Homo sapiens: one gene and its partners. The protein of the gene in region 1 interacts with the protein of each later gene in a pairwise test. Each region holds a gene or a part of one and is shown on either strand. Other genes may lie near its edges. The genes, in order: PLEKHG7, APBB2, AGXT and GSN.

Evidence for each region.
Region 2: the proteins of PLEKHG7 (region 1) and APBB2 interact in binary tests that used the Homo sapiens proteins (3 or more experiments, as listed by UniProt).
Region 3: the proteins of PLEKHG7 (region 1) and AGXT interact in binary tests that used the Homo sapiens proteins (3 or more experiments, as listed by UniProt).
Region 4: the proteins of PLEKHG7 (region 1) and GSN interact in binary tests that used the Homo sapiens proteins (3 or more experiments, as listed by UniProt).

Annotation. Positions count from the first base shown.
Region 1 is NC_000012.12:92,768,954-92,772,955, forward strand, and holds the end of PLEKHG7 (pleckstrin homology domain-containing family G member 7), read left to right. Parts: intron 1-29; coding exon 30-127; intron 128-1,134; coding exon 1,135-1,242; 3' UTR 1,243-3,502; downstream 3,503-4,002.
Region 2 is NC_000004.12:40,819,508-40,826,542, reverse strand, and holds part of APBB2 (amyloid beta precursor protein binding family B member 2), read left to right. Parts: intron 1-572; coding exon 573-656; intron 657-2,783; coding exon 2,784-2,899; intron 2,900-4,492; coding exon 4,493-4,672; intron 4,673-7,035. UniProt on the Homo sapiens protein: Plays a role in the maintenance of lens transparency, and may also play a role in muscle cell strength. Involved in hippocampal neurite branching and neuromuscular junction formation, as a result plays a role in spatial memory functioning.
Region 3 is NC_000002.12:240,863,926-240,871,837, forward strand, and holds the start of AGXT (alanine--glyoxylate aminotransferase), read left to right. Parts: upstream 1-4,898; 5' UTR 4,899-4,940; coding exon 4,941-5,105; intron 5,106-5,244; coding exon 5,245-5,437; intron 5,438-6,718; coding exon 6,719-6,783; intron 6,784-7,423; coding exon 7,424-7,524; intron 7,525-7,912. UniProt on the Homo sapiens protein: Peroxisomal aminotransferase that catalyzes the transamination of glyoxylate to glycine and contributes to the glyoxylate detoxification.
Region 4 is NC_000009.12:121,327,140-121,333,355, reverse strand, and holds the end of GSN (gelsolin), read right to left. Parts: intron 6,049-6,216; coding exon 5,874-6,048; intron 4,466-5,873; coding exon 4,341-4,465; intron 4,119-4,340; coding exon 4,041-4,118; intron 1,969-4,040; coding exon 1,908-1,968; intron 923-1,907; coding exon 753-922; 3' UTR 514-752; downstream 1-513. UniProt on the Homo sapiens protein: Calcium-regulated, actin-modulating protein that binds to the plus (or barbed) ends of actin monomers or filaments, preventing monomer exchange (end-blocking or capping).

The DNA of each region.
Region 1 (4,002 bases):
CTTTTTGTCTTTGTAATATCTTTTTCTAGTCTTTGGGCTGAGAAATGCTTTTCTTATACAACACGAAAACAGATATCGACAGTGTATAGCAGCATTCTTATTACAAGCCCAAACGGAAAACATCAAAGTATGTATTTTAATTTTGTAGGTCTTTGATTCTTCAGAGTTTACATAAGCTCCCCCCAAGTGTCTTAAGTAACAGTGAATGGAAAGTTTTGTGTTTTTCTCTCACCCACTTGGGAAGGGCAGATTTGGGAGGAGGGGAGGGGTACATCTAGTCCATATAATGCTCAAAAGCCTCAGTATTGACAATTTCCTCACACTTGTGGGGTTGAGGAACAATTTCCTCACACTTGCGGGGTTGAGGAACAATTTCCTCACGCTTGCAGAGTTCTCCTGCAGAAGCTCAAGAACTGCCTGCGTTCTACAGTTTCTGTAGGAAATGGGGGAAGAATTGATTTGGATTGCATGATGAACCTTTAAGATGCTCCAATCAGTTTCCAAAGTGCATATAATAGGATATTAGCTTAAGGAGGGCCTGGCGCAATAATGATCCCTGTCAAGTCAGCTTGTCAACCTTTGAAAAACTGCCATTGTTTTTACAGCTATGGAGTTGAAAGAGCAGCTGCCTGACTCTGGTTTCTCTGTCTTAGAAGTTTCTATTTTTGTATTTCCCCTGGTAGGCTTTCATCATATCTACAATGTGGCCAGACAACAAATGCAATATTCAATTTCCTGGGTCACTGCCCTCAGTCTCTTTCAAGTTATACTACAGGTTAAGAACTTGTTTCCACAGAGAATAGAAATTCCAGCAATGCCACTTTCAAACTACATATATTCTCAGTGCTCATTTTTCTAATGAGTTATCATTGACTATTGTTTCTTGATTACTCATAACTGTTATCCAACATGCATACCATACTCATTTAGCCCATCTGCATTTTCCTGTAAGATTAGAAGTATTTATATTAGATGTAAGAAAGAAAATGGGAAACATATGCAAATGTTTCATTAGTCTTCAGTTTTAAAGAGCTGGTCAATAAATATAGCAGAAAATATTAGCCCAAATATGTGAGAAATTGTCAGCTTAACATTCTAATCTCTATTTATGTATTTTTTTCTTTTTTTCAACAGAAAACATGGATGGCACAAATAACAACTGCAATTTCTTGCTTTACCAAGAGTCAGGAAACCAAGAAAATATCTTTATTCACATTGCCCGCAGAATCCTCTGAAATTTAGGGACCTAAAACAAGTGGCATGTCTTTTTAGAAGATTATGGTTTAAGGTATAATTTCATTCAAAGTTTTGTAACACTTAGCTAGTGATAAGCTAGAAGGAAATTTGCATTTTAAAGAAGTTTCAGAATTTGAAATTTTGAGCTAGGAAAATCCTCAGTATAGAGGAATAATGACTGCAACAAATTTGAACTCTGAGGAATTTCTTGACAAATATATACTGACATCCAGATTACCTTCTAATGCTTCCGTCAGGTTTGTAAGAGGTGTGAGTGAAGAAAGGTGCTAATTTGTAAAGGGTGAATGATCAGATAAATGGAGTATCAGAAGGAAAACAATGTCCACTGCTTATGTCCAATATGAACTCCAGCATCTTACTCTGTATCCATAAAATAATGAAACCAATTTTCCTTCATGGCCTGTCAATCAGTCTTAACCGCTTTATAGTCCTACCTCAAACATAATGATAAATCTTTAGATACAAAGCTTGATTGTTCTTTTAATATACAAAGCAATAAATAGGGACTACATTTAAGTAGCAGTTTTAAAATTCCTATTCTCAAACTCATCTCAGGTATATAGTACTCTAACGTGGAAGTAGAAAATCCCAAAGACTAAATTCCATTACTTTAAGATAGGAAGAAAAAAAAAATCTGGCTTTCACCAGTTAACACTTTTGCATGGCTTTTCTTGGCCTGTTGTGAAGTGTACAGATTTTCATAGACATAGTAAGGTATCTGTCTCTTAACTTTATTTTTTGAAGAATGATGGTGTTTGCCATAAAAATACTTTCTGGTTTTGATTGGTGTGTGTGTGTGTGTGTGTGTGTGTTAGCACAGTACAGTCACTTAATTTTATTTGGCAGGACTTCAAATTTCTTCAGAATTTTTATCATGAAAGGCAGTTTGAATAATTATTATCATGGCAGGATATATACTATTAACTACATTCAAGGAACTAGTTCTTAGGGTCAGATTATTGCATCAAAGGGAAGTCCACAAACTTCCATTTCAGAATCGTACCTTTTGCAATTTGCAAAGTGAAAGTAGTAAATTTATCAAATTTGGCTGCAAGACAACTGAAGCCTTAGCTGATTTTGTTAAGCTGAAGAATGGGGTAGAGAGGATAATGTTTGGGCAAGTCATGTGCCCAGTAATTCCTTGAGGAAGGTGAAATTTCACTATGCAAACAAAGCAGTAAAGACAAGTGCAGCAGAAAGGCTTTTGTACAAGGCAAGCACTATTAGAATGGAGACTAATAACCTCTTTATAATAATGTCAGAAATTTAATAGAAGAAAAAAAGGAAAATCTGGAGGACAGTAACTATTGTTAATAGCTAAGAATAAATGAGGTGGAGGGGAGAAAAAGGGGAGAATAGACTTCAAGCTTCAAGTGAATTCCTAGAGATGGCATCTGGATGGGACTGAAAGCAGTTATGTCCAGGAGAATACAATATAGATTATGCAAGAGAAGATTTTATAAAGAAATTTCTGGTTAAAAAAAATTTTTACATTAACAATCATCTTGCAAATGTTTAGATATAAACTAACCTCGGAGGTGAGCAGTGGACTAGGATGAGGTGGCCTCTCAAATTCCTTTAGTCCCATGAATCCAGCAACCACAGACTTACATGTATAAAGGTAGTTTTCTCCCTCTGAATCTCATTAAAGGGAGAGACAGACTGACTAAATTAACAAAATATATAAAACAGCTCAAGAATATGCTGTACATAAACTGGAATTCTATAAAGCTCACAAAGTAACATGTCTAATATACAATATATTAGATGTTTGAGGATATGCACATTAAACTCTTTGGAGGGTTTAGAATGAAGCACATTCGAATGAAGGGATCACGGGGGTCAGAACAAAAACCATTCTAGAACCGTGGCTCCCAGGAAGAAAAAATAGCAAAAAACAATGGCACATTGGGCCTTCCAAAAAGTATCTTTGGGGAGGGGAGGGAGAAAAATAAATAAATAAATAAATAAATAATGTTTTAAGTATCTTTAAATGGTCATCTGGGTATTAAATGCAGACACACAATGAAATAAGGGGTTAATTACATATTTTTTATATTTGTTTTTAGTTTTGTTAATTCTCTACAATATTAAATGGAATGTCTAAGGCAAAATGGCATTAATAATTTCTCTTGAGATCAGGAATTTAATTACTATTCGAAATTGAACAACATTAAAACACCACTGTCTATATCCAAGTGCAAAGTCCTAATATTCTGTAAATAAATTAATGCAAAATGGTTAATACAGTGTTCTCTCTTTTGTTAGACAAAACAATTTATAGTCACAGAATACAACTAGTTTAGAAAGAAATGTTTTTAATATAATATTTAAACATATTAAAAAAAAGCAACAATTCAATAAGGATCCTTCCATTGTTCTTTATACAGATTTAAATGCTGTCACGTACTTTATCAGTTACATTTATAATTAATAACCTTCCAATCACTGAGTTTAGAAATTGCAGTATTTACTGAGCTAACCTTTCTCACAAAGTAAGGCACAACTACATGATCACAAGTAGTAAACACAATACAAATAATGAACCCAAAAACTAAATGAGAAAATGTTCATGCATAAGTATCTACAGAACTTATGAATATATGATCCAGTTCAAGGAATTACAGAATGTCATATACACAACTGCATTGTGTTACAATAAATTTATTACTTCTACACAGAAAGAACTTAGTGACTTCTAATTCTATTTTATACAATTTTACATAAATTTAGTAAGTTTATGCA
Region 2 (7,035 bases), on another chromosome or scaffold:
ATGGTGAAACCCTGTCTCTACTAAAATACAAAAAATTAGCCAGGTATGGCAGCATGCACCTGTAGAATTGCTAGAACCCAGGAGATGGAGGTTGCAGCGAGCCAAGATCGCACCACTGCACTCCAGCCTGGGCAACAGAGCGAGACTCTTGTCTCTAAAAAAAAAAAAACGTGGGTTGATTACTGGGGGAACTCAGTTATCTTCCTATGTCTCTGATTGTGCCCTTTGAGGTTACATTTTCTCTGGGCATCAACCACACCTAATTAAATAGGACACCAAAAGCTGCTACTTTACTTAATATACATCAAAGAGACAGTAGCAGCTTTAACACATAGATGCCACTTCCTGCTTTCACATGCATTCCTATCTTGAAAGTTGAACAGGATTTTAACAGAGCCCCAATATCTGGAGTAATGCTGCTCTTGTAGAATAGTTGTTACATTTACATCCAGAAACATAGGGCGTTATGGCACAGGGCGTGTCCTGAGCATTCAGATGATGCAGAGCCACGGCTGTTGTGTACATGTGTGTTGGAACCACTGAGAAAGATGTGTTGCTTTTGTTCCCTGTAGTAGATTTTCCAACACCAAAGACTGAGCTGGTCCAGAAGTTCCACGTGCAGTACTTGGGCATGTTACCTGTAGACAAACCAGTCGGTATGTGAAATGTTTATTGTCTTTCCACTTTGCAAGTGTGCGGGAGCTCACAGGAGGCGTTCGCCCTCCGAGGAGGGTGAGGTCTGCTGTTTACTCTCACGCCTTGTCTTGAATCAAACTGTCACACTGTCACCTGCCAGAGAACATAAACGGTCCTGATCAAAAGATGAGTAGAGGGACAGGCCCCGCTGCTTTGACCTGTCATCCCCAGCATGCAGGACTTTAGCAATACAGACGTGGATTTCTTGTTTACCCAGTAGTCCAGAGCTGTGTGACTCAGGGCCGTGGAAGAGCTCCGCTGCTCTGAAACGAGGCCTCCATCTCTGAGGCCAGGGCACCTGCTTCGTGTCTTGTCAGCTGGCGGGCCAGGAGAAAGGACTGTGGAGGCTTCATGCTGTCAAGGAGTGACACAGTAGTGGCACACACAGCATTCAGCTCACATGCCAGGGGCAGAGTGTAGTTGCTGGGCTATACCAAGCCAAAAAGAGACTGGGAGATGAAGCCTTCACCAGGGCTAAAAAAGGCTGTGGAGAAATCGCAAGCTACATATACTGCCAAGGGGGCTGTAAGATGGTGCAGCTGCTTTGGAAAACAGTCTGGCATTCTTCAGAAGGTGAAACATAGTTACTTTAGACCCAGCAACTCAGTTCCTAGGCGTAGACCCAAGAGAAGTGAAAACGTTTGTGCATGCAAAAACGTGTATGCAAATGTTCACAGCAGAATTATTGATGAGAGTCAAAAAGCGAAACAACCTGAATGTCCTGACAAATCAACTGACAATTAGATAAATAAGATGTGATACTTCCATACAGTGGAATTTTATTTGGCAATAAAAAGGAATGAAGGACTGAAGTGCGCTGTAGCGTGGATGAAGCCTGAAAACATGCTATGAGGGAAGTCAGTCCCAAAAGACTGCATACTGTGTGATTACGTTCATATGAAACGCCCAAAATAGGCAGAGCTCTAGCGTCAGAAAGTAGGTAAGGGTTGCCTTGGTCTAGGGGTCTGGGGAGTGGGGGAAAAATGCAGAATGACCCCTACCAGGCACGGGGTTTCTCTTTGGGGTGATGAAACTGTTCTAAAATTGATTATGGTAGGTCTAGCATGGTGGCTCACACCTGTAATCTCAGCACTTTGGGAAGCCAAGGCAGGTGGATTGCTTGAGCCCAGAAGTTCAAGACCAGCCCAGGCAACATGGCAAAACCTCATCTCTACAAAAAAAATTCAAAAAATTAGCTGGGCATGGTGGCATGTACCTGTAGTCCCAGCTACTCCAGAGGCCGAGGTGGGAGGATCATCTGAGCCTGGGAGGCTGAGGCTACAGTGAGCCGTGATTGTACCACTGCACTCCAGCCTGGGTGACAGAGCAACACCCTGTCTCAAAAAAAAATTGATGATGGTGATGGGTGCGCTCTGTGAATGTACTAAAATCCACTGGATTGCACACTTTACGTGAGTGAATTGCATGTGAATGATACCTCAATAAAGCTGTCACTCCCACCCCTATCCCCCAGAAAAACTGTGGAAACAGCTGGCAAAAGGGCCCTACTCAATGGGGGGATCCACTGTAAAGGTGCCATCAAGAGACAGTGAGGGTGGAGAGAGGCTGAAGGGCCATGGTCTGCATAGGTAGACAGCGTCTAAGGCACCAGGTCCCCGGAGCTTCTCCTGACTCTCCTCTCCTACTGAAAAGGCTGTTATTTCTTTTTTTTCTTTTTCTTTTTTTGTTTTTTGAGACAGAGTCTCACTGATACTTGCCCAGGCTGGAGTGCAGTGGTGCGATCTCAGCTCACTGCAGCCTCCGCCTCCTGGGTTCAAGCAAGCATGTCCAGCTAATTTTTGTATTTTTAGTAGAGACAGGGTTTCACCGTGTTGGCCAGGCTGGTCTCGAACTCCTGACCTCAAATGATCCTGGCTCAGCCTCCCAAAGTGCTGAGATTACAGGCGTGAGCCACTACGCCCGGCCAGAAGCTGGTATTTCATTCCTGTTGAGCAAACATGAGAATGAAGTGTCCTGTCTATTAAAAAAAGATCAGTCTGGGCGTAGCTGTTATTGGTGATTTGGGCCCACATTTGAGTGTGGTAAGTGGCTTTAGGACACTTTAAATTATCCTTTTCTGTCCCCAGGAATGGATATTTTGAACAGTGCCATAGAAAATCTTATGACCTCATCCAACAAGGAGGACTGGCTGTCAGTGAACATGAACGTGGCTGATGCCACTGTGACTGTCATCAGTGAAAAGGTGAGAAGGAATCTTCGATGACATTGGTGTGTCTTATACAGTGAGTATAAGATACAGTGGTTTTCTGTGGAACTTAGGAACATAGTCAAGGCCGGAGTTGTGCATCCTTGTGATTAAGATGGCCTACATTTGAAAGATTTGGCCCTTTGTCTGGGTCTAAATCTGTGCATACCTCTGTTTTCCTGTGGCCTGAGAAACTTCTCTTCTGGTGCTTCTGATTCTGTCTTCCTCATGTGCCCCAGAGAGAAATTGTTTGCTAGAGGTGAGTGTGTGACGCTAGTAGTCGCTCACTCTCAGGGCGCCAGTATTGCCTGGGCTGTGTGATCTGGGGATGAAAAGCAGAAGATGCTTCCATTTGGGAGAGTCCTGTGACTATCAGTAGCAGAAGGAGCTATTGGTTGTCTTGAGAAGAGGCCACATTAGCCTCAGCCCAAATTATCTCAGTTTCGTGGTTGAAGAAATTGAAGCACAGAGAGGCTAAGTCATTTGCCCAGCATCACACAGTTGGAAGCAATGGAATCAGGACTTAAATCCAGGCAACCTGGCCCAGACTTGTGCCCACTTTTCTATTCTGCCTCTGTGAAGCACCTGCCAGGGAAAGACCACCAGTCATCAGCCTGCCCCACAGCTGCCCGGTTCACCCTGGAGAGAGGAGCAGGGTGCTCACTGCCTGCCTCCAGCTGGCCACACTGAGCTCTCCTCACCTCTTCAAGTAGGTCCCGCCCTTCCCCACACCAGCATCATCGCAAGCACTGCACCCTCCATGCTCCACCCTCTGCCTACCCGACCCTTACCCAGATCACCACCACAGCCTCCTTCCTCCTGAGAAAACTTCCCGACCTCTCACACTAGTGTACTTTGCTCATTAAACACTCCCAAGGCACTAGAGTGAATATTTAATTAGTCAAGATGTTAATGATCCAAAAGTCAACATTTTGGATGTGTTTATTAATTCAAAACTTGCATATGGTTCTTGCAAAGGATGTGGTGTTCATCCCTATGAGAAAGAATTCTGAACATTTCTTTACGCTGCCTCATGTGGATCCCAGATGGACACCAGTTTGCAAGAGAGAAAAGAAAAAAACAATTTGACAACTTTTTGTTGATTTGGCAGCTTTTTGTTTTATATGGTTTTAGATGGAAATGTGATTCAGTGTGCTGTTTAGTTTGGGTAAGAATCACTGGACGAAGAAAGATACCGTGAATCCCTTTTTTCTGGTGCTCTGGGGGTTTACTTGGCCAAATGGGTTTTGGGCCACCAGGTGTCCTGTATTTGGGCTAGATGTAAGAAGTATGGACGGCACTGTCCCTCCCCACAGTGAACTCACAGCCACGTAGCATAATGGAGAATGGGACCCACATCACACCCCATGACAGCAGTGTAGTTCAGAGCAAGAATGACCTCCAGAACAGGGTAGCCATGCAGTGATGGCCTCTTCAGACATTTGGGCAAGGTTCCGCCTTTCGAGAAAAACACAGGTCCTTTCTGAATTCGGCCTGGCTATACTTTCTGAATGCCAGTTCCTATGTGCTGCCACTCTTAAGCTTGATCCTGGGATCTCCTGATTGGATGCCGCATAATGTCTCTTGCAGAATGAAGAGGAAGTCTTAGTGGAATGTCGTGTGCGATTCCTGTCCTTCATGGGTGTTGGGAAGGACGTCCACACATTTGCCTTCATCATGGACACGGGGAACCAGCGCTTTGAGTGCCACGTTTTCTGGTGCGAGCCTAATGCTGGTAACGTGTCTGAGGCGGTGCAGGCCGCCTGCATGGTGAGTTATCCCGGTACAGGCTGTTGAGCCCTCCCGCCTCTGCTCATCTCTAATATGCCATACATTATAGCAGAATCACTCACGGAAATGAAAAAAGTCGAATCCCTAAAGTAATGCTTTACTTTATAACGCCGTCATTCCTAGGGCCAGAATCAGTTATGATAAACAGATTACATCTCCAAAGGCCAGAACTCCTGAAAGAAGTGGGGCCAGATAGAGGCTCCGATGAGTTTCATAACCACCACCTTGACGACGGTCAATCCTTGATCCCAAATCAATTTCATGTGTGAAATGTTGGTCGTGTATGAGTTGGTACTGTTTGGGTTCAATTCAGTACTTTAAAAATCAATACATTGAATGACTTTTGTTTCCAGTGATTGGTTTCTGTACACCGTTCTTATATATTTTATTTATATCTGTTAACTCAGTCCTTCCGACAACTCTGTTAGGTAGTTGTTAGTTCTGTTTTATTTATGAGAAAATAGAGACTTTAGGGAAGTTAGAGAATGGGCCTCAGGGCTTGTCGGTAAGTGACAGAGCCGAGCCTGGATTCAGCCCCAAGCTGCCAGGTGACAAAGTCAGAGCTCTTTATACCACATGGATACTTGGAAACAAACAAGAATCCCTCATTATTCCTTCAGCATGTGTCTTTGTGCCCCTCTTATGCCAGACACTGCAAAAGTTCTAATAAAAATGAGGGAACTGGGCCGGGGGTGGTGGCTTACGCCTGTAATCCCAACACTCTGGGAGGCTGAGGCAGGCGGATCACTTGAGGTCAGAAGTTCAAGACCAGCCTGACCAAATGGAGAAGCCCTGTCTCTACTAAAAATACAAAATTAGCCAGCGTGGTGGCGCATCCCTGTAATCCCAGCTACTCGGGAGGCTGAGGCAGGAGAATCACTTGAACCTGAGAGGCAGAGGTTGCAGTGAACCGAGATCGCGTCATTGCACTCCAGCCTGGGCAACAAGAGGGAAACCCATCTCAAAAAAAAATGAGGGAGCTATATGAGTGTGGGCACCAAAGCCTGTGGGCAGGTGTGTTCCAGCAGCAGCAGGTTGGGTGCTGGGCCCGAGTGGAAGGAGGTGCGGTCCAGATCATGGCGGGCTTATGATGATGGCGTGTGGGGGCCTGATTTTCTTCAGCAAGGATTGCTAAACTGGGGATTGAATTGATTGTATTTAGATTATTTATTTATTTATTTATTGAGATGAAGTTTTGCTTTTGTTGCCCAGGCTGGAGTGCAATGGCGCGATCTCAGCTCACTGCAACCTTCGCCTCCTGGGTTTAAGTGATTCTCTTGCCTCAGCCTCCCAAATAGCTGGGATTACAGGCACCTGCCACCACGCCTGGCTAATTTTTTATATTTTTAGTAGAGATGGGGCTTCATCATGTTGGCCAGGCTGGTCTCAAACTCCTGACCTCAGGTAATCCACCCGCCTCAGCCTCCCAAGTGCTGGGATTACCGGCATGAGCCACCGCACCCAGCCTGTATTTAGATTTTAGACGAGTATCCAGCAAAAAAAGAAGACAACCAAGTAGAGGATAGGTTGGAGGAACAAGGCTGAGGTGGCGATCAGCCAGGAGCCCAGTTACCTTCTGCAGATGGGAGAGAGGAGGAGCGTCCACGCTAGGAGAGCAGCGTTGGGAACAAACAGGAGCAGAGGCTTTGAGAAGCACCGAGCTGCCTGGCTGGGGGAGAACTGCTGCATGTGAAGCCCCTGGGCTTCATTTAATTCAGCCTCGCACTTACGGGCTGGAATCTGGGGCATTCAGCATGACTGAGATACAGTCCTTGCATTGTAGAGCTCAGGTATAGTGGGGGAGACACAGAAACCTAAACTCTGTTACAGTGTAGAAAGTGCTGTAAATAAAAGTATGAGGATCTTCACTTTCAGCCGGGCGTGGTGGCACATGCCTGTAGTCCCAGCTTCTGAGGAGGCTAAGGTGGGAGGATGGCTCAAACCCAGGAGGTCGAGGTGCAGTGAGCTACGATGGCACCACTGTAGTCCAGCCTGGGTGACAGAGCGAGACCCTGTCTCAAAAAAATAAATAAGAAAAATAAGTATGAGACTGTGCTGGATTGAGAAGTAACTGGGAAGAAAAAGAAGTGGAGGCCCTAAAAGCAGATAACTTACAAAGTTTGCCAGTGAGGGGGAGCTTGAAGGGCAGCATTGGAGGGTTTGTTCATGTGTTTATTTCAGGACAGGAGAGGCCTGCCCCTTTTTTATTCTTTATTTTTATTTTATTTTATTTTTTTTAAGAGATGGGATCTTGCTATATTCCCCAGGTTGGTCTTGAACTCCTCCCTGGAACGGCAGGGGAGCACCACCATGCCCAGCTAGGTTTTCTTTTGTGGAAAATG
Region 3 (7,912 bases), on another chromosome or scaffold:
AGATACCTTTTAGTCTTTATAGACACTTTCACAAGCTGGACTAAAGCCTTCCCACTCGAACAGAAAGAGCATCAGAAGTAACTACGGCTCTTTTAGAACACATTATTCCTCGATTTGGGGTCCCTCAATCCCTCCAATCAGACAATGGCCTGGCCTTTATTTCTTCTATTACTCCAGGAATCAGTGAGGCCCTCCAAATAAAATATCACTTACATGCTGCTTACCACCCACAGTCATCCAAGGGCCAAGCTAGCTTTGAAAACCCTTCTCACTAAGCTCTCTATAGAAACTCAACTGTTTTGGATAACTTTTCTTCCTATTGCCCTGTTAAGATCTAGAGTAATTCCCAAAGGTTTCAACCCACCTTAGCCCTTTTGAAATTATTTATGGATGCCCCTTTTTACAAACGGACTTATTACTTGATCCAGAGGCTCATTATCTGTCTCAATGTGATGCCTCCCTGGGCAAACTATCCAGGCCACTACTGAATACCAGGATAAATTTTGTCCAAAATCTGACCCCTCCTCATCAGAACTAAGACCTCCTGTTAACCTGGGGACTGGGTATATTTAAAAACTTTGCCTCCAGACAGAAAACCCCTTCCAGCCCTCTGGACTGGACCCTTTCAAGTCCTCATAGCCTCTCCCACAGCTGTTAACTGCAGGGATTCTCCCCTTGGGTCCACCTTTGCCACATAAAGTCTGTACTGCCGCCAGAACTCCAGCCTGCTTACACTTTGAGCCCTTGGAAGATCTATGATTTTTGTTTTGCAAACAACCAGGTGACACTAACCTCTCTTCAAAAGCAAAGGATACCACGTAAGCCTTTTGCTGTGTTTATCATTCACTTTCCTTTCCCTCCCTTGTCATTCATTTCCTTATGTACTCTAGAAGCGTTTTTAGGTCCTCCAATTTTCTGAGATTATCCTCAATTCACTTACTTTTTTTTTTTTTTTTTTTTTGAGACAGAGTTTTGCTCTTGTCACCCAGGCTATAGTGCAATGGTGCGATCTCGGCTCACTGCAACCGCCATCTCCCGGGTTCAAGTGATTCTCCCGCCTCAACCTCCTGAGTAGCTGGGATTACAGGCATGCACCACCATGCCCGGCTATTTTTTTTTTTTTTTTTTTTTTTTTGTATTTTTAGTAGAGACAGGGTTTCACCATGTTGGCCAGGCTGTTCTCACACTTCTGACCTCAGGTGATCCGCCCGTCTCAGCCTCCCAAAGTGCTGGAATTACAGGCATGAGCCACCACACCCAGCCAATTTACTGTCTCTTTATCCAATCCCCATTTCTCAAGACCCACATACAATTATTCAGCTTGCACTAGATTTTTATTTGCAGGGTGGTTTTTCTAATTATACTTGGAGCAACTTTTGTAACAGTCCTTGAATTAGAACAATGAGACTCCTTTTTTCTTTCTTTCATGTTTTTCTCTTTATCTCTCATATAAAAACTTCCCAATCCTCTTGGTTTGACAATATCATCTTCAGCATCTCACATGCTATTGTGAGAGGAGAAAATACTCTGTGTGGCTGGCTTTGCCGTCCACAACCTGCTACTCCAAGCCATGTAGATTCTTCTTCGTAAGCACACCCTGTCTCCAATCAAACTGTACTGTTGGGATTTCATTATTCTTCTCACCACTCCTTCCCACCCCGACCATTTCCTTCTGTGCTGGTAAATTGGAAACCACCTCCCTCTTCGTGCTATCATATTACTTCCCCCACCATCCACACTTACAATATCACTGAAACTTCCTTAACTTGTAATGTTATTTTGGGAGGTACACCTTGTTATAATGACACTCATGCAGCTAACTTTGACTCATTTGAGGCCTTCGCCTCCTACAATCAAAACTCTGACTCTGGCCAGGTGCGCTGGCTCACACCTGTAATCCTAACACTTTGGGAGGTAGAGGTGGGTGGATCACCTGAGGTCAGGAGTTCGAGACCAGTCTGACCAACATGGTGAAACCCTGTCTCTACTAAAAATACAAAAATTAGCAGGGCGTGGTGGCAGGTGCCTGTAATCCCAGCTACTCAGGAGGCTGAGGCAGGAGAATCGCTTGAACCCAGGAGCAGAGGTTGCAGTGAGCCAAGGTCACACCACTTCACTCCAGCCTGGGCAACTGAGTGAGACTCCATCTCAAAAAAAAAAAAAAAAAAAATCTGACTCTATCTCATCACTGCCAATTTATAAGCCGTTAAACTGGACCAGTATAGTGGGGCTCCCAGTATACAGCACCCCTGCACTCCTAATACCTTCATGTATGTTACTATAATGATGCAACCAGTGCAGGAAATAACCACCGTGCCACCTGGTTTACATCCTATGCCATGCACTGGCACCCGCCTGCTTTTAAACCTCCTCCATCAGTACATAAACATAGTCTTTCCCCCATATGAGTCCTCTTAAAACTGTCAAAAGGCCCATTTCCTTTTTTCCCAACATTTTAATTAAAATAATCATCCTGCCCCTCCTGGGCTCTTATGGCTTAGCAGCCCCACTAAAAACTATTTAAACCCTTTTCAAGCTTTGGCCCTATCCCACCTTGATCATTCTCTTCACTATGGTGATTGTAGCCTGGGAACAATAGCTCCCACCCAAATCACTGTCTTAAACATCACTTCTAATTCAGAATTCCCTTCTAGAAGGAAAAGGGCCCTGGGACTTACTGTGGCCGGAGTTGTGGGAACTATCACAACTCTTACCCCTTGGGGAGGTTTTACTTACCAGGAAATCACAAGTAAGAGAACCTACCGCCTCCCTTGAAATAGCAAAAGCTGGCACCCATCTATCAGCTCTACAAGTCATTAGACTCACAAGCAGGATTTTGGTGTCTGGTAACAGGTGAGTTCTGGATTACCTCCTAGCTGAACAAGGAGGGGTCTGTGCTGTCATCAACAGGACCCGTTGCACCTACATTTATGTGTCTGGAGAAGTGGAAACCGATGCCCAAGAAATCATCAAACAAGCCAAATGGCTACACACACTTTCCCAAAGCAACCAAGACTGGGCCAAAACTTTTACTGATTGGTTTTCAAAAAATCACTTGGCTTCCCCCATTCCTTAGACCTTTATCTTCTGTCATTTTTCTTTTAATATTTGGTCCCTGCCTTTTTAATGCTCTGATTGCTTTTCTATGTTCTACATGAGAACAATTCCACCTGCAGAAGGCTATGCATTCCCAACACTGGCCTGCAACTGCAGCTCGATTTACATGGGGCTTCTTGATGGAAATACCGGCCTGCAACTGCAGCTCCCATTTACGTGGGGCTTCTTGATGGAATCCCATCACGTGCCTCCGTGCACAAGTTTTCATGACCCTTTATTCCCTTCATGACCGAGAGCAAGAAAGGGAAAAACGTGACCTACCCCCCTGAACTCCCTTTCAGCAGCAAGTAGTCAGGCGCACTGGACACCCCTCTTCACTGTGCCGTTTCCCCTTTCTTGAGACCCCAACAGGAAGCAGGTGGACATGAGCATGGCAGAAAAGGAAGGGTCAAAGATTTCACCAAGATATTTGTCAGAGGGAAAATGAGGACAGCAAAGATCACCTGGAGACCATCAAGCAGGCCCCAGGTGGGGTGGGTGGAGGGGAGCCTCTTTATTTGAGAAATGTAGAATGAATTAGACTTCCCTATTATCTAAAGTTGGCACCTGGTTCCAGGCCTCTTTTCAACCTAAAACTTATACATAACTAGAATTTCTATACATCTCTGGAATGCAGCATGCTGAAACTCACTGTGCAACCCCTGCCTTGTGTGTGTCTGTATACCATGCAGGTTTGCTTGCTAAATTGAGCCTGTAAACCAAAAAGTACCTCAAACAGGTCTCAATTAATTTAGAAAGTTTTTGTTGCCAAGGCTAAGGATGCACCCGTGGTACAGCCTCAGGAGGGAGGACATCCTTGCCAAGCTCAAGGGTGCACCCCTGACCACAAGGGCCCAAGGTGGTCGGGGCACAGCTTGCTTTTATACATTTTAGGGAGATATGAGGCATCAATCAATACATGGGAGATTTACATTGGTTCCATCTGGAAGGGCGGGACAACTTGAATTGGGGGGCTTCCAGGTCATAGGTAGATTTAAACATATTTTGATTGGCAACTGACTGAAGAATTATTATCAGCAGAAAGGAGTGTCTGGGTTATGAAATAGGGGTTGCAGGGAGCAGATGATGCCTTCAGGTAGCGGGATTTAGAGAGAAAATAGATGGTAAATGCTTCCTATCAGACTTAAGGTCTATGTCGATGTTAATGCTGGGGGTTATGATGTGGCATGGCCTGAACGTCTTCCGGGTTAAAGTTTAGAGCACCCTGGCGGACAGGGAACCCCATTCAGATGGTTGCTGGGGGGCCTTCGAATTTTATTTTTGGTTTACAAGCCTTCCCATCAGCTGCGCCAGGGTCAGCAAACCACAGTCCATGGGCCCAATCTGGCCTGCCACCTGCTTTTTGTAAATAAAGTTTTATAGGAACACGCCCACACCTCTGGCAGCTGCTTTGCAAGCACGCAGCAGGGTTGAGTTGTTGCAACATAGACCACAGGGCCTGCCAAGCCTCAATTATCTGTGCTCCGACCCTTTAAGAAACACTTCTCTCACCCCTGAGCTAAGCAGAATAAGAGGGGCTGGACGTGCAGGACTCAGAGTGGGAGCGAGGAGGGCTGGGGTGAGGACAGCTTTGTCACACTCTGTTTTTCTGTCACTCAGCCCTGGGGGCTCCCTCTGCCTGAGGGCTTCGTCCCCTGCTGCCTGGCCGTGACCCGCAGCACAAGCACAGATAAGCCTCAGGGAACAAAAGGCAGGGCTGCCACGGAAGCCCATCCACCAATCCTCACCTCTCACCTCTGTGTCCGCCCTGCTGGGAAATATTCCAGGCTTTGGCCAAGGCCAGTGCAGCCCCAGGTTCCCGAGCGGCAGGTTGGGTGCGGACCATGGCCTCTCACAAGCTGCTGGTGACCCCCCCCAAGGCCCTGCTCAAGCCCCTCTCCATCCCCAACCAGCTCCTGCTGGGGCCTGGTCCTTCCAACCTGCCTCCTCGCATCATGGCAGCCGGGGGGCTGCAGATGATCGGGTCCATGAGCAAGGATATGTACCAGGTAGGAGTGGGGGTCACTCGGGGGGCCTGGGTCTCACCCATGTTCCCACCCACAGATCGTGGACGAGGGAAGGGGGTCACTGCCTCCTCACTTGGGGAGGCGGGGAGCCTGGGTCTCACCCTATACCACCCGCATGCAGATCATGGACGAGATCAAGGAAGGCATCCAGTACGTGTTCCAGACCAGGAACCCACTCACACTGGTCATCTCTGGCTCGGGACACTGTGCCCTGGAGGCCGCCCTGGTCAATGTGCTGGAGCCTGGGGACTCCTTCCTGGTTGGGGCCAATGGCATTTGGGGGCAGCGAGCCGTGGACATCGGGGAGCGCATAGGTAAGGGAGAGGCCCAGGTGGGGATGGCCCTGGATCCATCCTTCAAGGCCTCCCTGGCCTCCCTCTGTTTGAAGCTGGCAGCCCCCGTTCCTGGGTGAGCGCTTACCCACCTTGTGGCCCTGTGCGCACGAACCTCCTGCCAGCCCACTGCCTCCTCCAGGCGGTGTCGGGCACTCATGAGGCCTGACTCTGATAGGGCTGGGAGCAGCACAGGTGCCCCGATCCCCCCAGTCTCCTTGAGCTGTTTCTGGAGCATGTGCAGGACGGAACTACAGGGAAGCCTCTGGTCCCAGCACACACTCCTGAGAGCCCCGGCCGCTGTCCAGGGCCCCAGGCACCAGCTCTGCTTTGTGACAGGGTGGGGTTTCAGAAGCTGAAGCCTCCCCTCAAATCTCAGCAGCCTTCCTTCTGGAATCTTGATGTGATACACAAAATATGGAGGTATGGGCAGAGTATTCGCCTCCGGAGTACACTTTTCTGGGAGAGACACAGGAGCAGGAGTGTGCCCTGGGTTTAATGATTGATTGTGGCATTGAGGGACATCAGCTTGGTGAGCTCCACAATGGCCATGCTGGTTAATACGCGACCGCAACAGCCAAGAGGGTCCCAACCCCAAGTCCACAAACTTTTCAAGGGGACCCAGGGTCGGCAGAGGCCAGGACCCCAAGTGGACATCAGGGCACGCAGGCTCAGATGCCTGTGGTATATGGCTTCCCTTTTCCCCATTCTGTCCCCTTGGCCGCAGGTTCTTCCCCTCCCACAACCTGGCCCTGAACAGCACACAGGATAGGGCAGAGACAGGGAGGGGGTGAGGGCCTGATTCCTGGAGTCCCCAGCTCCAACAGAGGTCAAGGCTGCTGCCTCACTCACCCCTCATCCTTCAGTCTGTCATCCATCACACCTGTGGTGTGCCAGCCCTGGACCAGGTACACTCTTTGTGCCAGCCCTGGGCCAGGTGCAGCCCTGACTCCCGGGAGCTCACTCTCTGCTTGGGGAGGCACTGGTCAGTGTGGCCTGAGAAAGGGCATTTGAGCTGAGCTCTGTCAAGAGTGCCCCAGGAGCGTTGGCTCCAACAGCAGGGGGGTCAAGATGGCCCTGGCTCTACACACAGAGAGGCTCTCATTGGGCAGAGTCCACCCTCCTCTTCAGGCAGGCAGCCAGGGTGCCACGGTGGGTGGGGTCCAGCCCTCACAGGGCCCTGCTCAGCAGGGCCACGGGTGCCCAACACTGGCTTCTACAGTGTGTGCGGGACACTCACGGCCCACTCTGTCCTGCACCCAGGAGCCCGAGTGCACCCGATGACCAAGGACCCTGGAGGCCACTACACACTGCAGGAGGTGGAGGAGGTAGGGGACCCGGGGTGGGGGTCAGGGCCGGGAGGAGGTGGGAGTGGGCATGCTGGCTCAGGGGCTGCCTGGAATTGGCCAGCCAGCAGGGTGGGATCATGGCCGGGAGGCTGGTGGCTGACCCTCAGCCCATCCTAGCATCTGGTGAGCGGCCACAGGGGAGGGTTCCATTACCTGGGAATGGTGGGAAGACTGGTAAGGAGGCTTCTGTCTGGCAGGGAAACTGAGTCAGGAGCCTGGTCCTGTAGGCAGGGCCAGAGAGGCTGGAGGCAGGAGGCCGAGTTGGAGTCTAGGCTGCAGAACATGTCCCTGACACTCAGGATACCCCACCCTGTGGGCTGAAGTCAACCTCAGCCTACCCGGAGTGTGGGGACTCAGTCCATCTAGCAACAGCCCTCACAGGCCAGGCAACAGGCTGGGGGCACCCTCCTCCATCTCTGCACCAAAGTCCTGTTCTTGGAAAAGCCCTTGTCCCGGAGCGGAGATGCCCCAGCCTCCTCCTCCCATGCACACCATCAGGGAGGAGTAGAGGCAGGCCCAGCCCCTGCTACCTGGAGCTGTGCCACCCATGGGGGGTTTGTGGGGGTGTTCTGGCCCCTGCCCCTCTGAGCTCCACCCACAGCCGTCCCTGCTTCCTCAGGGCCTGGCCCAGCACAAGCCAGTGCTGCTGTTCTTAACCCACGGGGAGTCGTCCACCGGCGTGCTGCAGCCCCTTGATGGCTTCGGGGAACTCTGCCACAGGTGAGCCTGGCCCCAGGGCGGTGGACTGGAGCACAGCTCAGAGCCAGGCTATGGGGAGGGGTGGGCACTGGTCCCTCTGGTCCTTCTGCCCCTGGTCCCCACCCCAGCCTCTGTCACATGGTATGGGGTGCAGGCACCTCCCAGGTCCTCTTTGCTCTGGGCTGAGTCTAAAGACAACCCCAGGTCCCAGGGCAGGCTCAGGTGCTCCCTGGCCGAGCGCCCCCATAGTGCCCACTGACCTCTGTCCCCAGGGCTGAAGAGGGCTTGGTGCAGACTTCCATATCTTGCCAGGGCCTGTCCCCACCTCACCCCGAGATTGCCAGGACACTAAAGCTGCCTGATGCCCTCCACTTCCCTCCTCCAGCCTCCCTCATCCCCGCATGGGGGT
Region 4 (6,216 bases), on another chromosome or scaffold:
ATCTCGCTCTGTCACCCAGGCTGGAGTGCAATGGTGCAATCTCAGCTCACTGCAACATCCGCCTCCTGGGTTCAAGAGATTCTCCTGTCTCAGCCTCCCGAGTAGGTGGGATTACAGGCATGTGCCACCACGCCTGGCTAATTTTTTATTTTTAGTAGAGGCAGGCTTTCACCATGTTGGCCAGGCTGGTCTCGAACTCCTGATCTCAGGTGATCTGCCTGCCTCGGTCTCCCAAAGTGTCGGGATTACATGTGTGAGCCACCGTACCCGGCCCCTCCTTATTTCCTTTAGCATAGGTATCCCCCAGGACAATCTACACACCTCTCAACTCACTGTGGCATCGCCTCTCAGGGCACCAGGATTCACGCACAGGGTGGATGTAGCCTTTCTACTAGTTTACAGGCAAATGCTAGGCACCTCTCTGGCCATTCTCAGAATTACCAGGGACACAGGCAGAGAAGACGCCGGCTCTCACTGTCAGATGGGCACAAGGAAACGAGCCACACTAGAGTACACACTTCAAAATGTTTTTATTGGATTTAATTTCCCAAACACTGACATTTTAGACAATTTTGCAAGGACTCTGAATTTTTGCAGGGCTATTTTTGGATACTGTAAAAAAAAAAAAAAGAAACAACACACACACACACACACACTCATAGCAGAGCTGCTCTGCTCGCTCTAAGGCCTCTTTGAGGGAAGGACAGTTCCAAAAGGCACTGACCGGTGACATGGGTGGGCCCTGCCCCTCCTCAGGCAGCCAGCTCAGCCATGGCCCTGTCCAAGGGGTCCACAGACCAGTAATCATCATCCCAGCCAAGGAACCAGCCCACAAAGGAGGGAGGCTCAAAGCCTTGCTTCACCACGGTGATGGGCGTCCGCCGATCCCGATTGGCTGGGTCCGTCTCGATGTACCGCTTAGCTGCAGACACACGTGCAAGAAAAGGAAACCCCAGGAATTCTTAGTGCCTCCCACACCAGGGAGAGGGTGACTCAGGACAGGAGTTGACAAAGAAGAGGGTCTATGGTCCTACTGTCCCTACTGCCCACCCCCTGCCCTGGGCACCATCCTCCTTTAAAGGCATGATACCCACGTGGGCTCTCCACCACCCTGCTCAGGAACACAGGAAGGAACAGGGCTACGGCTTAATCTCCTGCTTCATAAAGCTTATTACTTTCCCTTGCAGTCCCCTACTGGAAGATATGGGAACCAACTTTTGGGTTCCCAGCTCACAAATCAGATCTATTCAGCTGCCAAGAATCTGCTTTGCAACATCTTTTTCTTTTTTTTTTTCATTTTGAGACACCATCTCATTCTGTCACCCAGGCTACAGTATAGTGGTGCGATCATGGCTCACAGCAGCCGTGAACTCCTGGGCTCAAGCAATCCTCTGACCTCAACCTCCTGAGTAGCTGGGACCACGGGTGTACACCAACACGCCTGGCTAATTTTTTTGTATTTTTTCTAGAGATGAGGTTTCACTATGTTGCCCGGGCTGCTTTCAAACTCCTGGGCTCAAGTGATCCTCCTGCCTTGGCCTCCCAAAATGCTGGGATTACATGCATGAGTCACCATGCCTGGCCTGCTTTGCCACATCTAAACCTTGACAAGTTCAGCTTCTGAGTATTCTGGGAACTTGAAGTGACTTCTCATCTGTCCCTTCCTTCTCCTGGAACAGAGGAGAGCCTTCTTTGAGAAGCCTCAGGGTTTCTGAAGGAACTGATGTGTTCTTCACTATCCCAGGCAGGATTTATGAGGGGCTGGCCCACAGAGGAGGAAGTCCCCACCCTATCTTGTCCATCAGTCCCCTGGAAAGATGCTCATTCCCAGACCTGTACAGGAGCCACTCCCAGCACCCCACAAGCAACGGACCCCTCCCCCCGCCCCCAGGCACTCGGGTCCTCACCAGAAGTCAAGGCTTCTGTCTTTTCTTCTTCTTGAGAATCCTTTCCAACCCAGACAAAGACCTGGAGGTGAGATGCAACAGGAAAGGTACATGAGGAGTGCTGATCAAATTCACGGCTGGAGGAAGACTGGGGAGGGGCCAGGTATCAGACCAGACAAAGCCCTCCCCTTTCTAACAGAGCCCATGAACTAAGACTGGAAGGATTTGGAACAGAGGTTGAAAACTGGCAACCTACAAACATGTTTTGTTTGCTCACCCACCACCTTGTGTTAGCCAACAATGTCTTTTTAAACCGTTATGACATAAAAATCTAGATTTCCAACTTCTCTTTAAAAATTGGAGGATCTAGCAGCCTGGGCCTTCAAACCTCACTTGAGTCAAGCTGCGCAGGAGCTGCCCCTTTGAGATGAGCAGTTCTAGTTTGCCTCAGACTCCACTGCTCCTTCACGTCTCCCCAGCCCAGCCTGCTTCATTCGCTAACATTGCCAACCAGGTACCATCAGGCATTGAGTTTGAGATTCTTCTCTAAAGGTCCATGAGTTATCTCTTGAACAGCATTCACTCGTTCAACAAATGAGTGGCCAAACATATTCTCACCCATTTATTTATCCAACAAATATGCACCGAGAGTCTACTATGTGCCGGTCTGTGTGCATCTTTGTCAAAATGGGCCTAAGGCTTGGAATAAAAATAACTCACCCACCACTATCACCATTTTGAGTCTTGTTACAAGTTCTATTACACATTATTTAGCTGATTTTTATGTATCATCTATTTTTATGCATATCTAAAATATTACTTCAAAGAGCACCTATCATTGATAAAATGGCATTAGACAATAAAATGTCAGACTTCATTTTTCTCACTTTTTTTTGAGACGGAGTCTCACTCTGTCACCCAGGCTGGAGTGCAGTGGCATGATCTCAGCTCACTGCAACCTCCGCCTCCTGGGTTCAAGTGATTCTTCTGCCTCGACCTCCCAAGTAGGTGGGATTATAAGCACCCACCACCAAGCCTGGCTAATTGTTTTGTATTTTTAGTAGAGATGGGGTTTCACCATGTTGGCCAGGCTGGTCTTGAACTCCTGACCTCAAGTGATCTGCCCACCTCAGCCTCTCAAAGTGCTGGGTTTACAAGTGTGAGCCAACATGTCTGGCCCTCTCTTACTTATTTATAAATGTGTTCCCAACTAAAGTGGAAGCCCCTCGAAGGCAGGCATTCTATTTTGCTCATCATAGGATTCTCAGCACTCAGCATTTTGCCTGCAAGACCATGGTGCTGAATAAATGTTGGCTGACTGAATCCCTAACAGATGAACAAACAGATTAAGTAGCCAATGGATCAATCAATGACAACTGCTGAATGGCTCAAGCTGCAATCATTTTTGGTCCCGATCTTCCAACTGGGGATTCCGAGCATCCCTGTGGGTAGTGTAGAGTCTTATGCCTTCGTGGCCAGCTGCTCCGTAACTCTGAGGACTCTGGGAGAAGCCACCTTGATAGGAAAGGTGACTGACCTGACACCCCTGTGAGAACGTAAGCCCTGGGAGAGCAGGAAAATGCCTACTTTATTCATTGCTCTATCCCAGCATCTCAAACATAAAGCACCTGGCACAAAGCAGTGCCCAATTAATATTGGTTGAGTAAGTGAATGGCATCTTCCCCTGCCAAGTCCTACATAATGGCCTTCTCTAGGAGATGAAGTGGAGACAGAGCCCAGAGCCCTCAAACCAGAAGCAGGAGCCCTCTAGAGCCTCTAGGTGACACTGGACAGTTTATGCCTGCAAACAAGATGCTGCTAAGTTCAACTTCCTCTGCCAACAGATTTAAAGGAAGAGTTCACGCTCCTGCAAGGTCTGGGAGAGAATGATGAAGGTCATGTGATTTGCCTTTATAGGGCGTTTTGCAGCTTTCAAGGTGAGTGTATCTGCAAGGGAGGTACCGCCACTCCCAGTTTACAGATGAGGAAATGGAAGCTCAGAAAGAAGAAGTGACTTCCAGTACCCTTAGAGACTTTTCTGGCAACACCTGGCACTGCCCCCTTTAGGTCCTTCTAGCAACTGATCATAGAACTGGAAGTCTAGTTTCTCCCACTCCCTCTGGCACAGAGAGCCTTCACCTGTCCTTCACCCACCTGGTCCCAGGTGTCCAGAAGCATGACGTCATCCGTTGCCAGGTCTTCCTGCATGAGCTCACCAGGAACCTCTTCGATCTGGGAAGGAACGAAAGAGCATCAGTGAGATGTCTTCCCTCCCCTGGGTGGCCTTCCTTTATCTGCCCCCTGAGGGAGTGGCACAGCTGGCTGCAGCTGGCAGGGGGCCCCTTCCTCTGTGCCACACCATCAGAACTGTTTCTCCTGCCCCTGCTGCCGGCCAGTCCTGTGGAACTCGCCTCCCGAGGGGAAAGCAGAGGTGTGACCTCCGCAGGGGCTCACCACAAAACGTCCAATCTTGTTGGAGCAGGCAAAGAGGCGAGGAGGATGGGCATCCATCTTCTTGTCCTTCAGCCGTGGGGATGTGCGGTAGGCAGCCTTCCCGCCCAGGGCCTCCCAGAAGCCATCTGTGAGGGGAGGCCACGCCAGTTGCCAAGGGACGCCATCACCCCTCTCTCCCATCTCATCGGACCCTGGGACCAGCCCTGCCCAAGCGCAACCAACTGCTCTCCCTCTCCTCCCTCCATCCTAAAAATCCCAGGAGATCCAGAGGGAAGAGGCCTGAGGGAATTGGAAGGTGACGAAATAGAGGCCCAGAGAGGGCAGACTTGGCAGTAGTCACACAGCCAGGACCACTATTGGCTTGAGGCTGACGACAGCATTGCGGGATGAGGACCATTAGCTCCACTCAGCTAATGAGGCAGTTGTGGCTCGGAGAGGTTAAGCAACTCACTCAAGGTCACACAGATGGTAAGTGTTAAGACCAGGATACAAATCTTGTCTGATTCTAACACCTATACTCTTTCCACTATACCTGCTCTGTCCATGTGCAGCCATTTAAATTTAAATTCATTAAAATTAAATTCGACTAAAAGTTCAGTTCTTCATTCCCACTAATTCCCACTGGTCGCATTTCAAGTGCTCAACAGCCACATGTGACTAATGGCTGTCAAATTGGACTCGGCAGATACAGAACATGTCCATCTGCATAGAAGGTTCTGCTGGACAGAGCTGCTTTAGACCAAGTCACTCTTCACCATTTCTGTTAAGCATCAAGCAGGTGGGAATGAACTCAAAGTAACAGTATAAAGACTGCAGGCTGGCAGAAGGAAGAGCTGCCCGGCCCACATTCTGGAAACAGAGCAGGCTGGTGGCATTTCTGTCCATGGAGAGTCTAGAGATGCAAGGAGACCACTGCTCCTCTGACGCTATCAGCCCTGCCTACCACCTTTCAAGGCTTCCTAGCGAGGGACCGCCTCCTTCCACAGACCAACTGCTCCTTCCCACACTGGGCTCTCCTTTCTTTCTTTCTTTCTTCTTTTTGAGACAGAGTTTTACTCCTGTTGCCCAGGCTGGAGTGCAATAGCGTGATCTCAGCTCACCGCAACCTCCAACTCTCGGGTTGAAGTGATTCTCCTGCCTCAGCCTCCCGAGTAGCTGGGATTATACAGGCATGTGCCACCATGCCCGGCTAATTTTGTATTTTAGTAGAGATGGGGTTTCTCCATGTTGGTCAGGCTAGTCTTGAACTCCCGACCTCAGGTGATCCGCCCGCCTTAGCCTCCCAAAGTGCTGGGATTACAGGCATGAACCACCACGCCCAGGCTAGGCTCTCCTTTCTTTAGCTCCTGGAGACCTCCCTCTCTCTGGCCACAGCCCTCATTTTAATGCAACTGCTTTTATTTAACATACATTAGGGGACAGGCCCTCAGGTGGGATGGAGGGGAGGATTTAGAGCCCCCAAGCTGAAGGAAAGAAGGGGGAAACTTAATAGCTGCATCCGGACAGCAGCAGGCCCCCCACCCCGGCTCCTACCTGGCTCGCTGCCTTCTGCCACCTGCACAGGTTGGGCCCGCAGCACCCTGAGCAGCTCCTGGGCCCCCGTCTTCTCTGCCTCGCTGGCTCCTGTACCCACCCACAGGTAGGCGGCTGAGGGGGTTTTCAGAACAAAGGCATCGTTGGAGTTCAGTGCACCAGCCTTAGGCAATACCTGGGAGGGTACAGCTTGGTTAATCAGGAACCAGACAAAAAGCCCTCAGCCCCCTCCTCACAGCCCAGGAGACCCCGCAGCAGGACTAGCTCTCAGGTGGGGACTTGGAGGAACACAGCCCATCAGAGCTGAGGGCACAGACTTTGGACCCTGATGGCCTTGGTTGAC